Linked DNA regions of Homo sapiens. The protein of the gene in region 1 purifies or fractionates together with the protein of each later gene. This does not show direct contact. Each region holds a gene or a part of one and is shown in the gene's direction. Other genes may lie near its edges. The genes, in order: ZNF577, CHAC2 and MAPKAPK5.

Evidence for each region.
Region 2: the proteins of ZNF577 (region 1) and CHAC2 purify together in Homo sapiens (affinity purification with mass spectrometry; one large-scale study listed by BioGRID and IntAct). This does not show direct contact.
Region 3: the proteins of ZNF577 (region 1) and MAPKAPK5 purify together in Homo sapiens (affinity purification with mass spectrometry; one large-scale study listed by BioGRID and IntAct). This does not show direct contact.

The regions. Positions count from the first base shown.
Region 1 is NC_000019.10:51,884,998-51,889,274, reverse strand, and holds the start of ZNF577 (zinc finger protein 577), read left to right. Parts: upstream 1-1,323; 5' UTR 1,324-2,454; intron 2,455-4,277. UniProt on the Homo sapiens protein: May be involved in transcriptional regulation.
Region 2 is NC_000002.12:53,770,766-53,773,365, forward strand, and holds part of CHAC2 (glutathione-specific gamma-glutamylcyclotransferase 2), read left to right. Parts: intron 1-1,141; coding exon 1,142-1,177; exon of another isoform or gene 1,178-1,179; coding exon of another isoform or gene 1,180-1,182; intron 1,183-2,600. UniProt on the Homo sapiens protein: Catalyzes the cleavage of glutathione into 5-oxo-L-proline and a Cys-Gly dipeptide. Acts specifically on glutathione, but not on other gamma-glutamyl peptides.
Region 3 is NC_000012.12:111,848,677-111,852,330, forward strand, and holds part of MAPKAPK5 (MAP kinase-activated protein kinase 5), read left to right. Parts: intron 1-3,654. UniProt on the Homo sapiens protein: Tumor suppressor serine/threonine-protein kinase involved in mTORC1 signaling and post-transcriptional regulation. Phosphorylates FOXO3, ERK3/MAPK6, ERK4/MAPK4, HSP27/HSPB1, p53/TP53 and RHEB.

The DNA.
Region 1 (4,277 bases):
CATTATATCACTTACTGTATAATAAAATAATCTTACAGTAGTATATCTCTATTTCCTGTGACCAGATCAGTGTCAGTGAAGAGATTGTCTTCTAGATGCTACTGGAATACATATTTGAGGTATGGGTAATCTTGATTTTACATGATAAATTCATTCTAGCATTCCAAACTCCATTTATCTTTGGGTACTTTATAATATATGAGGAAATTTCTGGCATTTAAACTTCATTTAGTGTAGGCAAATTTTGAGTCCAAGTTTCAGTCAACCAGCCAAGTCAACAGTTAGCACCACTCAATTTAGCTCACACACTGAAATTGCCAGTAGAATGTAATCTCCATGAATGAGAGTCTTTGTGCCTGAATTTCCAACTGTTGTATTCCCAGCACGCACAACAGTGTTTGACACATTAGGCATTTTATAAACATTCGCTGGATAAATGAGTGAATGATCAATCCCTTTAAAGGTTCTCTGAGGCTGGTTATAAAATTATAGGGAGCAGGTTTGGTGCTAGAATTCATCAGTTAATTGATCAGCTGAGTTTCAGTATTGAACAGAATCATCTCCCCTTCAGAGTTTTGATTTCAAGTTGCTCCCACCTTCCTGGATGTAAAGGCTTGTTCTGCCTTTGGCTTTTCCAGGGTGAGAGAGCCCTGTTTTCGTGTTGGTTCCCCACTTTGTCAACTGCTGATCAACTGTGTTCTCCATTCTCCACACCAATTATAACCAAAGCTTTAACACGCGGTTGTTTTATCCATTCTATGACTGACTCCTTCCTCTGAGGCTACATCTGATGTAGATGTAAAGATACTTCTTAGGCAGTTCTCAAAGGCTGCTTTCTCCAGCCAGATGCATCCTCAGGAGTAATAACCCCTCCGATTGTTGCTCAGGTCCCTCCCTCTTGAAATTCCTGTAAGACTGCCGCGCCACATGGTTTCTTTCCATTCTTCTTAGGATCAAAGTGCCTAAATGTCTGTGACCATCTCTACCCATCCTGTAGACAGATCAGGGCAGGCTTGAGCCTTTGAGAAACTAAGCAGTTTATGTAGCGCCCCTGGCTAATGTTGCAAAGCCAAGATCTAGCAGTTCACGTGGACTGGAAAAAGGGTGAAATGGGTCGTTTTCAATTGCTTTTCATCGTCAGAACCTACCTGTCTTAAGGCGCGAAAAGAGGGACTCCGCCTGCTCTACGGCAGTAGGGTTGAAAATGGCTGCTCCCAGCAAGCGTCCCCTGGGCGCAGACATATTGCATCATAAAGGGACGGCTGGTGCCGTATTCCGTGTCTCCGGAAAGACGCAGTATGGCCCTCGCCGGCCGCCATCCCCGAAACTTGCGAGTGTCGCGTCTGCAGTGTGTGGGGTTCGCGGGGCGGCGGGTAGAGGCGAGTGTTTAGAGACTTCGGGTCCCTGACTCGCCTCCAGCAGTGGAGACAGGTCATCGGTCTGGTCTGCGTGGGCTTCTGGGAATGTTTCAGGGGCAGGGAGAGCGCGCTTTTTTTTTTCTGTTGTTCGCTAGCGCGTGAGGTCCGTGTTGCGGGGAGCTCTCGGGGAGTCCTCGCTCGGAGTTCGTTTCGCAGTCGTGTTGGAGTTCCCAGAGTCTGGGAGCCCATGGTCTCCGCATTGGAACCAGTGCTTGGGAGGTCTTCGTTGCACAGTAGCGCTAGGGCGTCGTGGTGGGGAAGCGAATCGTGTCAGTGTTGGAGACTGCTCTGGGCAGTTCGTGTTCATTGCTTATCACATGCGTACTTAAAAAGGGGTCTGCTGGTCCCCTTGCTTCCCTGCTGCTGTATATTCTGTAGAAAATGGGTTTTCAGGTTCATTGCGACCCAAGTAATAACATCCCCATCATTTTAAATACTCCTCCAGAAAATAACTCTGGTTTAGTGTATTTCATGTTTAATGTTGGGATCAGGTGTCTAGGTATTGGTATAATTTTATTCGTCTTTAATAACATCTTGTCAACTTCGTATTCCCATATTACATGCTCTTTGAGAGTTTTTTAAATTGCTGCAGTTTCATCAAGTGGTTGCTTTAATTTGGGTAGAATTGATGTAGATCTAGATACAACACTTTCAGGAACATGTGATGGATTTCTATTAACCCAATATTTTTATTTGTTTGACTATCTGTAGTGTTTTTCCATACGTATCTTGGACATTTCTGGTTATGCTTATTTCTACATAGTTAATACTTTTTGTTGTAAATCGTGACTTTTTTTTTGCATAAGACCCCTCCCCCTTTCCTTTTTTGTTCCTAATTTTACTTAGTTGACAAGAACAGAAGTTAAAAATATATATGTTTATTCTGTCACTTCATTGTACTCATGTCATTACATATAACTTATAAATTGACGTCTTTTTTCTAGTTGAGCATTTTTGTCATCTGCAAATAATTTTAGCCAGGTGGCAAGTGTATGGACTGTGGAGTAAGAAGTACCTGCCTCTGCCTCTGACTTGGGTACGTTAATCTCTGAGTCAGTTTCCTTATTTGTGGAAAAAAGCTGTCATAGTTTCTTTTTCATGGAATCATTATGAAGATTAAGTGAGCAAATGTTCTTTAAGTATGTTCAAAGTGTAGTACTAGGTACGTAGTATGGTCTGAATAAATAATTACTGTGATTTATCAAGTTTTTATTTCTCTTTCCTAAGGGCTTTTGACCATTACAATTATTTTCATTTATTTTTTTCTCTTTAAAATTTTCTTTGATTTGTGTTGCTCTATTTCCCAATTTCATGTATTCCTGAGGGAATAAACCATACTTGTCAATAATGGTTTGTTCTTTTAATATGAGACTGGATTTTATTTGCTAAAATTTTATTTAATATTTTTGCATCAAAAAATGAAAAGATATCTTGGATTAGCTTCGGAATAATCCATAATCCATTGCTGGAGAGGGACTGAATGGTGGTATAGATAAAACAAAATTAGATGTGAGTTCGTCATTCTTGAAGTCACATGATGAATATGTGGAATTTGAGTATACTGTTCTTTTGCTTGAAATTTTTCATAGTAGAAAGTTAAAAAATTTTTTTGCCTATACATTTATAAGAGAAATTGGTCTCTTAAGTTTTTTTCAAGTGATTATACTTGAAAATCACCAGGTTAAAAAAATAGAATAATGTAGCATCCCAGAAGCCCTCATCTTCTCTCTCCTCTCCAAAGGTAATTATTATCTTAAAAACATCATAGATGTGCTTGGTTGTCATCTTTATATAAATGAAATCCTAAGGTACACATTCTTTTGTGGCTGGCTTCTTTTGCTTAATATTTTTGTTGTGAAAATCATCTAAGTTGCTGCATATAGCAGTAGCTCGTTTCTTTTTCATTACTGTGTAGTATTCCATTGATGATTATACCCCATATTATCCATTCCACTATCAAGAGACATTGTTATGGCTTATGGGAGTTATGAGTATTGTTGATATGAACGTTTTTCTACATGTCTTTTGGTGCATAAAAGTTCTATTGAGGGCTGGGCATGAGAGCTCACGCCTGTAATCCCAGCACTTTGGGAGGCTGAGGCGGATAGATCACCTGAGATCAGGAGTTCGAGACATCTGGCCAACATGATGAAACCCCATCCCTACTAAATACAAAAATTAGCAGGGCGTGGTAGCGGGTGTCTGTAATCCCAGCTACTCAGGAGGATGAGACAGGAGAATCACTTGAACCCAGGAGACAGAAGTTGCAGTGAGCTGGGATCATGCCATTGCACTCCAGCCTAGGCAACAAGAATGAAACTCCATCTCAAAAAAAAGTCAATAGAGCATATACTTAGTGTGTTAAGTATAGAGGAATGGAGTATGCTAGACACAAGGAGAAACCGCAAATGCCCAATCATAATGGGAAATTCTTAACATACTTCTCTCAGTAACTGAGAGAACAGGCAGACAAAAAGCTAAAAGGGTATAGATTAACCATTGCTGGCAAACTTTCTGTAAAGGTGCAGACAGATGACAAATATTTTAGTCTCTGCCGGCTAAATGGTCTTGTCTGCATCTACTAGGTTCTGCAATTATAGAATGAAAGTAGCTGTACAGAATGTGTAAACAAATGGGTGTGGCTGTGTTCTGATAAAACATTATTTACAAAAACATTCAGCTAACCCACAATAGTCCCAACCCCTGAAAGGTTAGAATGACATACCTAATTAACAAACTTGACCAATATAAAACACTGCACTCAATAATTTTCCTCAGATGCACATAGGACATTTATAAAAAGTCACCGTATGGTTGGCCATCAGGCAAGTCTAAATACATTTCAAATGATTAAAACCA
Region 2 (2,600 bases), on another chromosome or scaffold:
AAATTGCCTAGAACACAAGTGGTCTGATTGTCCCATATAAGAACTACACGAATAGGCCAGTTCTAATACTGACCTTTAAATAGGGCAAAGTAAAGTTCATTTATGAATGTAAAAGAAATGCCTACCTTGAAGCACCATTACCATATACAGAAAGGTAAGAACACTTCATAACTCAGAAGTGTAAATCACTCATTCTCTCTCACTTAAAACCTCTTAATATCCCCTGGTAGCAGTGGTTCTTAAAGTATGAGCCCCAGAACAATTTCTGAAATCAGCAGGAAAGTTGTTACAAATGCAAATTCTTAGACAGCTCCAGACCTACAGAATCAAAAACTCTGGAGGTGTGGCCTAACAATGTCTTTGTCAAGCCCTCTAGGTCATTTTGATCCACTAAATTTGAAAGTCACTTCCCTATATATAGGAAAGCACCCTTTATGTCATATTTTTTTTCCCCTAATAAAACTATAGGCCGGGTGCGGTGGCTCACGCCTGTAATCCCAGCACTTTGGGAGGCCGAGACGGGTGGATTACCTAAGGTCAGGAGTTCCATACCAGCCTGGCCAACATGGTAAACCCGTCTCTACTAAAAATACAAAAATTAGCTGGGTGTCTTGGCGGGCACCTGTAATCCCAACTACTCAGGAGGCTGAGGTGAGAGAATTGCTTGAGCCCGAGAGTTGGAGGTTGCAGTGAGCCAAGATCGCACCACTGCACTCCAGCCTGGGCTTGTTGAGCAAAACTCCGTCTCAAAAAATAAATAAATAAATAAATAAAACTATAACATTCTTTTTTCCTTAAGGGAAAAACCAGAATATTTATAATTACTGCTTCCATTTGCCTTTCATTTTAGATGACCTTTAGTTACTGGTATGTTTTCCAATATATCCATGTAAAGTGAATATAATATACCTAATACGTATAAATTGATGGAAATCTTTTAGAAAGGCCAACACAGTCTCTAGATAAGGTAGGTTCTCTTAATTCACTTAAGCTTTATCATAAAAAATAACTATGCTTAAGAAATAGTGCTTCTTATGAGCAAATATAATTCAAATATTCCATGTCAAAAATGTTGCTAATGCTCAGCTACTTAATGAACTTTATTAATTCAGAAAAATTTTTTTTTACCTTTTTAAAACAGCCTGGAAGAGTTGTGACTCTTGTTGAAGATCCTGCGGTATGGTATAAATATTCTTTTTTGTATAATTTTAATTTTATAAAATGTTGCGATGTTTCTGTTTCAATTTGATTAACAATCATCACAGACAATTTGAACTACCCTAAATTTAGAATTCTTCTCTGTATTTGTGGGTTTTTTTTGTGTTTGTGAAAACTGAGGCCAATAAGAAAAGTTAGAATGCAGAGTGCAAGGTAGACAACAACGTACAGACAAATAGCATGTAGTTTTCGTTTTTGTGGGGTTTTTTGAGACAGAGTCTAGCTCTGTCGCCCAGGCTGGAGTGCAGTGGCGCGATCTCGGCTCACTGCAAGCTCCGCCTCCCGGGTTCACGCCATTCTCCTGCCTCAGCCTCCCAAGTAGCTGGGACTACAGGCGCCCGCCACCATGTCTGGCTAATTTTTTGTATTTTTAGTAGAGACGAGGTTTCACCGTGTTAGCCAGGATGGTCTCAATCTCCCGACCTCGTGATCCGCCCGCCTTGGCCTCCCAAAGTGCTGGGATTACAGGCATGAGCCACCGCGCCCAGCCGTGGGATTTTTTTAAAAACAAGTTTATTAACTAAGAATTTTGTGGTCCCCTTTGACATTAACGGAAATACCTGCCCCCGACAGCCAGACTACCACCGAGAATTAAATGGAACCCTTAAAAGCTCTCTTCACTTTTGCTACCAGTCTCATTTTCAGCAGAAATCTAAGTGAGGAATTCTTATTTTCTTTATTGCTTAATTGTATCAATAGCACCTGTGTGTTGTGTTTTGTGTTTTTGTTTTTAAGTTCAGGAGTACATGTGCAGGATGTGCAAGTTTGTTACATAGGTAAACATGTGTCATGGGGGTTTGTTGTACAGATTATTTCATCACCCAGGTATTAACATTAAGCCTAGTATCAATTAGTTATTTTTCTAGATCCTCTCCCTCCTCCCACCCTCCACCCTCCCGTAGACCCCAGTAGAACCTGTGATTTTAAAACTGGTTTGGAGCACCAGAAAGTTTTATTTAACCAACAATCCTCAGTTTCTTAAATATTTTCAGTCATTTTATTGGGGTACAGATTCAGAATTTTATATTGTGAAATTAAATGTTTAACTTTGGAAAGGACTTTAATAAACAAAAATCAAGCAGTTAGTAATGGCAGATAAATAATGGTGTGGATTAGGAAATGCTTTCATAATTGATACTACGAAAAGCATTTATAAAAAAGATCTTCAAATTGGTAACTTATAACTCCTAATTAAACAGTTAATAAACAAATGGCACTTTGTTTCTAGAATTTTTTAATGACCAAGTGAAAGGCTCATATTTTTCATTTCAGTCCCGTTATTAAAGAAAAAGACCAAATTAAAAAAAAATTTTTTTAAGATAAAATATCTTGCTGTGCCTATGATACAAAGAAATTATTCACAATGGAGATTTTAAAGTGCT
Region 3 (3,654 bases), on another chromosome or scaffold:
CTAGGATTATAGGCATGAGCCACTGTGCTCGGCCTCTTTTTGCCCGTTTTAGAATTGCTTTTTTTTGTTTTGAGATGGAGTCTCGCTTTGTCACTCAGGCTGGAATGCAGTGGTACGACCTTGGCTCACTGCAACCTCTTCCTCCGGGGTTCAAGCGATTCTCCTGCCTCAGCCTCCTAAGTAGCTGGGATTACAGGCATGCGCCACCATGCCCAGCTAATTTTTTGTATTTGTATTTTTATTTTTTTATTTATTTTTTGTATTTTTAGTAGAGATGAGGTCTTCACCATGTTGACCAGGTGGTCTCGTACTTCTGACCTCAAGTGATCCGCCTGCCTTGGCCTCCCAAAGTGCTGGGATTACAGATGTGAACCACCATGCCCAGCCTAAAATTGATTTCTTTGCCTTATTGAGTTATAGGATTATTTATTTATTTTTTTATTAATTTTTTTAGAGATGGGGTCTCACAATGTTGCCCAGGCTGGTCTTGAACTCCTGGGCTCAAGCGATCTGCCTGCCTCAGCCTCCTGAAGTGCTAGGATTACTGCACCTGGCCAAGAGTTCTTTTTTTTTTCTTTCTTTTTTTTTTTTCTGAGACAAAGTCTTGCTGCTCTTGTTGCCTAGGCTGGAGTGCAATGGCACGATCTTGGCTCACTGCAACCTCCACCTCCCGGGTTCAAGTGATTCTCCTGCCTCAGCCTCCCAAGTAGCTGGGATTATGGGCATCCACCACCATGCCTAGCTAATTTTTGTATTTTTAGTAGAGACTAAAAATTTTAGTTTTGCCATGTTGGCCAGGCTTGTCTTAAACTCCTGACCTTGTGATCTGCCTGCCTCGGCCTCCCAAAGTGCTGGGATTGCAGGCGTCAGCCACCGCACCTGGCCTAGAGTTCTTTATAAACTGAATAAAAGTCATTTATCAGCTATGTGATTGGCAAATATTTTCTCCCAGTCTGTGGCTTATCTTTTCATTTTATAATGGTGTCTTTTGAAGAGCAAAAGGTTTTAAATTTTATGAAGTCCAGTTTAGCACATTTTTTTCTTTTTCTTTTATTTTGTTAGGACAGTCTCACTCCATCACCCAGGCTGGAGTGTAGTGATGCGATCACAGTTCGCTGCAGCCATGTCCTTCTAGGCTTAAGTGATTCTCCCTCCTCAGCCTCCTGAGTAGCTGGGACCACAGGTGTCTACCACCATGTTTGGCTAATTAAAATAACTTTTTTTTTTGTAGAGACACGGGTCCCACTGTGTAGCCCAGGCTGGTCTCCAGCTCTTGAGCTCAAGCAGTCGTCACACTTTGGCCTTCCAAAGTGCTAGAATTATAGGCATGAACCACCACGACTGGTTGTGAAATATCCTTTTTTTTTTCATAGATGGAGACTTGCTCTGTTGACCAGGCTGGAGTGTAGTGGCGTGATCTTGGCTCACTGCAACCTCTGCCTCCCAGGTTCAAGCAGTTCTCCTGCCTTAGCCTCCCAAGTAGCTGGGATTACAGGTGGGTGCCACCATGCCCGCCTAATTTTTGTCTTTTTAATAGAGACGGGGTTTCACCATGTTGGCCAGGCTGGTCTCGAACTCCTGACCTTGTGATCTGCCTGCATCGGCCTCCCAAAGTGCTGGGATTACAGGCATGAGCAACTGTGCCTGGCCAAAATACCTTTTTATTTCATATTGAAGATGCAGCTTTTACGTGGGTGCGAGAGTGCTATAAGAAAGGCATAACTATAGACTCTAATATTTTTCGAGAAAAAGTCATTGTGTCTTAAAAGGAAGGTAAAGGATCTAAAGTTGGAGAATTTAATGCCAGCAAAGGATGGTTTGATAACTGTAGAGAGGTTTGGCTTAAAAAAATGTCAGGGTAACAGGAGAAGCAGCTTCTGCTGACCAAGAGGCGGCAAACAAGTTCCCAGATGCCATTAAGAAAATCATTGAGGAGAAAGGATATCTGCTTGAATGGGTTTTTAATGCAGACAAAAATGCCCTGTTCTGGGGAAAACAATGCCACAAAGGACATTTATGAGTAAGGAAGAGCAGTGAGTGCCAGGATTTAAGGCAGGAAGAGCTAGGTTAACTGCCGTTTTGTGTAAACACAGTCAAGTTTATGATCAGGACTACCCTGGTCTATAAAGCTGCTAACCTCTGAGCCTTCAAGGGAGAAGATAAAACACCAGCTGCCAGTCTGTTTTTACCAAAAGAAAGCCTGGATAATGAGAACCCATTTTCTTTTTTTTTTTTTTTTTTGAGAGGAGTCTCGCTCTGTGGCCCAGGCTGGAGTGCAGTGGCACGATCGCGGCTCACTGCAAGCTCTGCCTCCTGGGTTCACACCATTCTCCTGCCTCAGCCTCCCGAGTAGCTGGGATTATAGTTGCCTGCCACCACGCCCAGCTAATTTTTGTATTTTAGTAGAGACAGGGTTTCAGCATGTTGGCCAGGCTGGTCTTGAACTCCTAACCTCAAGTGATCCGCCTGCCTCGGCCTCCCAAAGTGCTGGGATTACAGGCATGAGCCACCGTGCCCGGCCAGGACTGCCTTTTAAAGTTTTTTTGACACAATGCCCCTGGCCACTGAGAATCCCATGAGTTCAACACTAGGCTTTGAAGTGGTCTACTTGTCCACAAACAGTGTCTCTAATCCAGCCTGTAGATCAGGAGGTCTCAAGGACTTTTTGAGAAAGAGTCTGGCTCTGTTGTCCAGGTTGGAGTGCAGTGGGGTGATCTCAGCTCACTTCAACCTCTGCCTCCCAGGTTCAAGCAATTCTCATGCCTCAGCCTCTCGAGAAGCTGGAATTACAGGCATGCTCCACAATGCCTGGCTAATTTTTGTATTTTTAGGAGAGATGAGGTTTCACCATTTTGCCCAGGTTGGTCTCGAACTCCTGGCCTCAAGTGATCTGCCTGCCTCAGCCTCCCAAAGTGCTGGGATTACAGGCTTCAGCTGCCGCACCTGGTCCAGGACTTTCAAGACTCATTACATGGGATACTCTGGAAAAGATTGTTAACACCAAGGAAGAGAATCCTGATAGAATGTAGTGAAAGTCTAGAGGGATTACACCACTGAAGATGCCATTGTTATGGAAAAAGCTGTGGAAGCCATCAGGCCTGAAACAATAAATTCCTGGTGGAGAAAACTCTGTCCAGATGTGCGTGACTTCATAGGATTTATGACAGAGCTGGTTAAGGAAATCATGAAAGAGATTGTGGATATGGCAAAAAAGGTGAAGGGTGAAGAGTTTTAAGGTACAGATCTTGGAGAAATTCAAGAGCTAATAGACACCACACCTGAGGAATTAATAGAAGATGACTTGATGGAGATGAGTGCTTCTGTGCCAGACAGTAAGGAATAAGATGTACAAGAAACAGGGGCAGGAAAAAATTGACATTAGACAATTTGCCAGAAGGGTTCCAATTATTCAAGACTTCCTTTAGCTTTGTTTATGGAATATGGAATGGAACCTTCTGTGATACTGGCACTGAAGTGAAAGCAAATGGTGGAAGAAGGATTAGTATTGTATAGAAATGTTTTTAGAGAAATGGAAAAGCAAAAAAGTCAGACAGAAATGAGGATGTATTTTTGTAATGTTACACCAGATGTGCCTGCCTCTCCTGCCTTCCTTTCCATGCCCTTCACCTCTTCTACCTCTGCTGCCCCAAGACA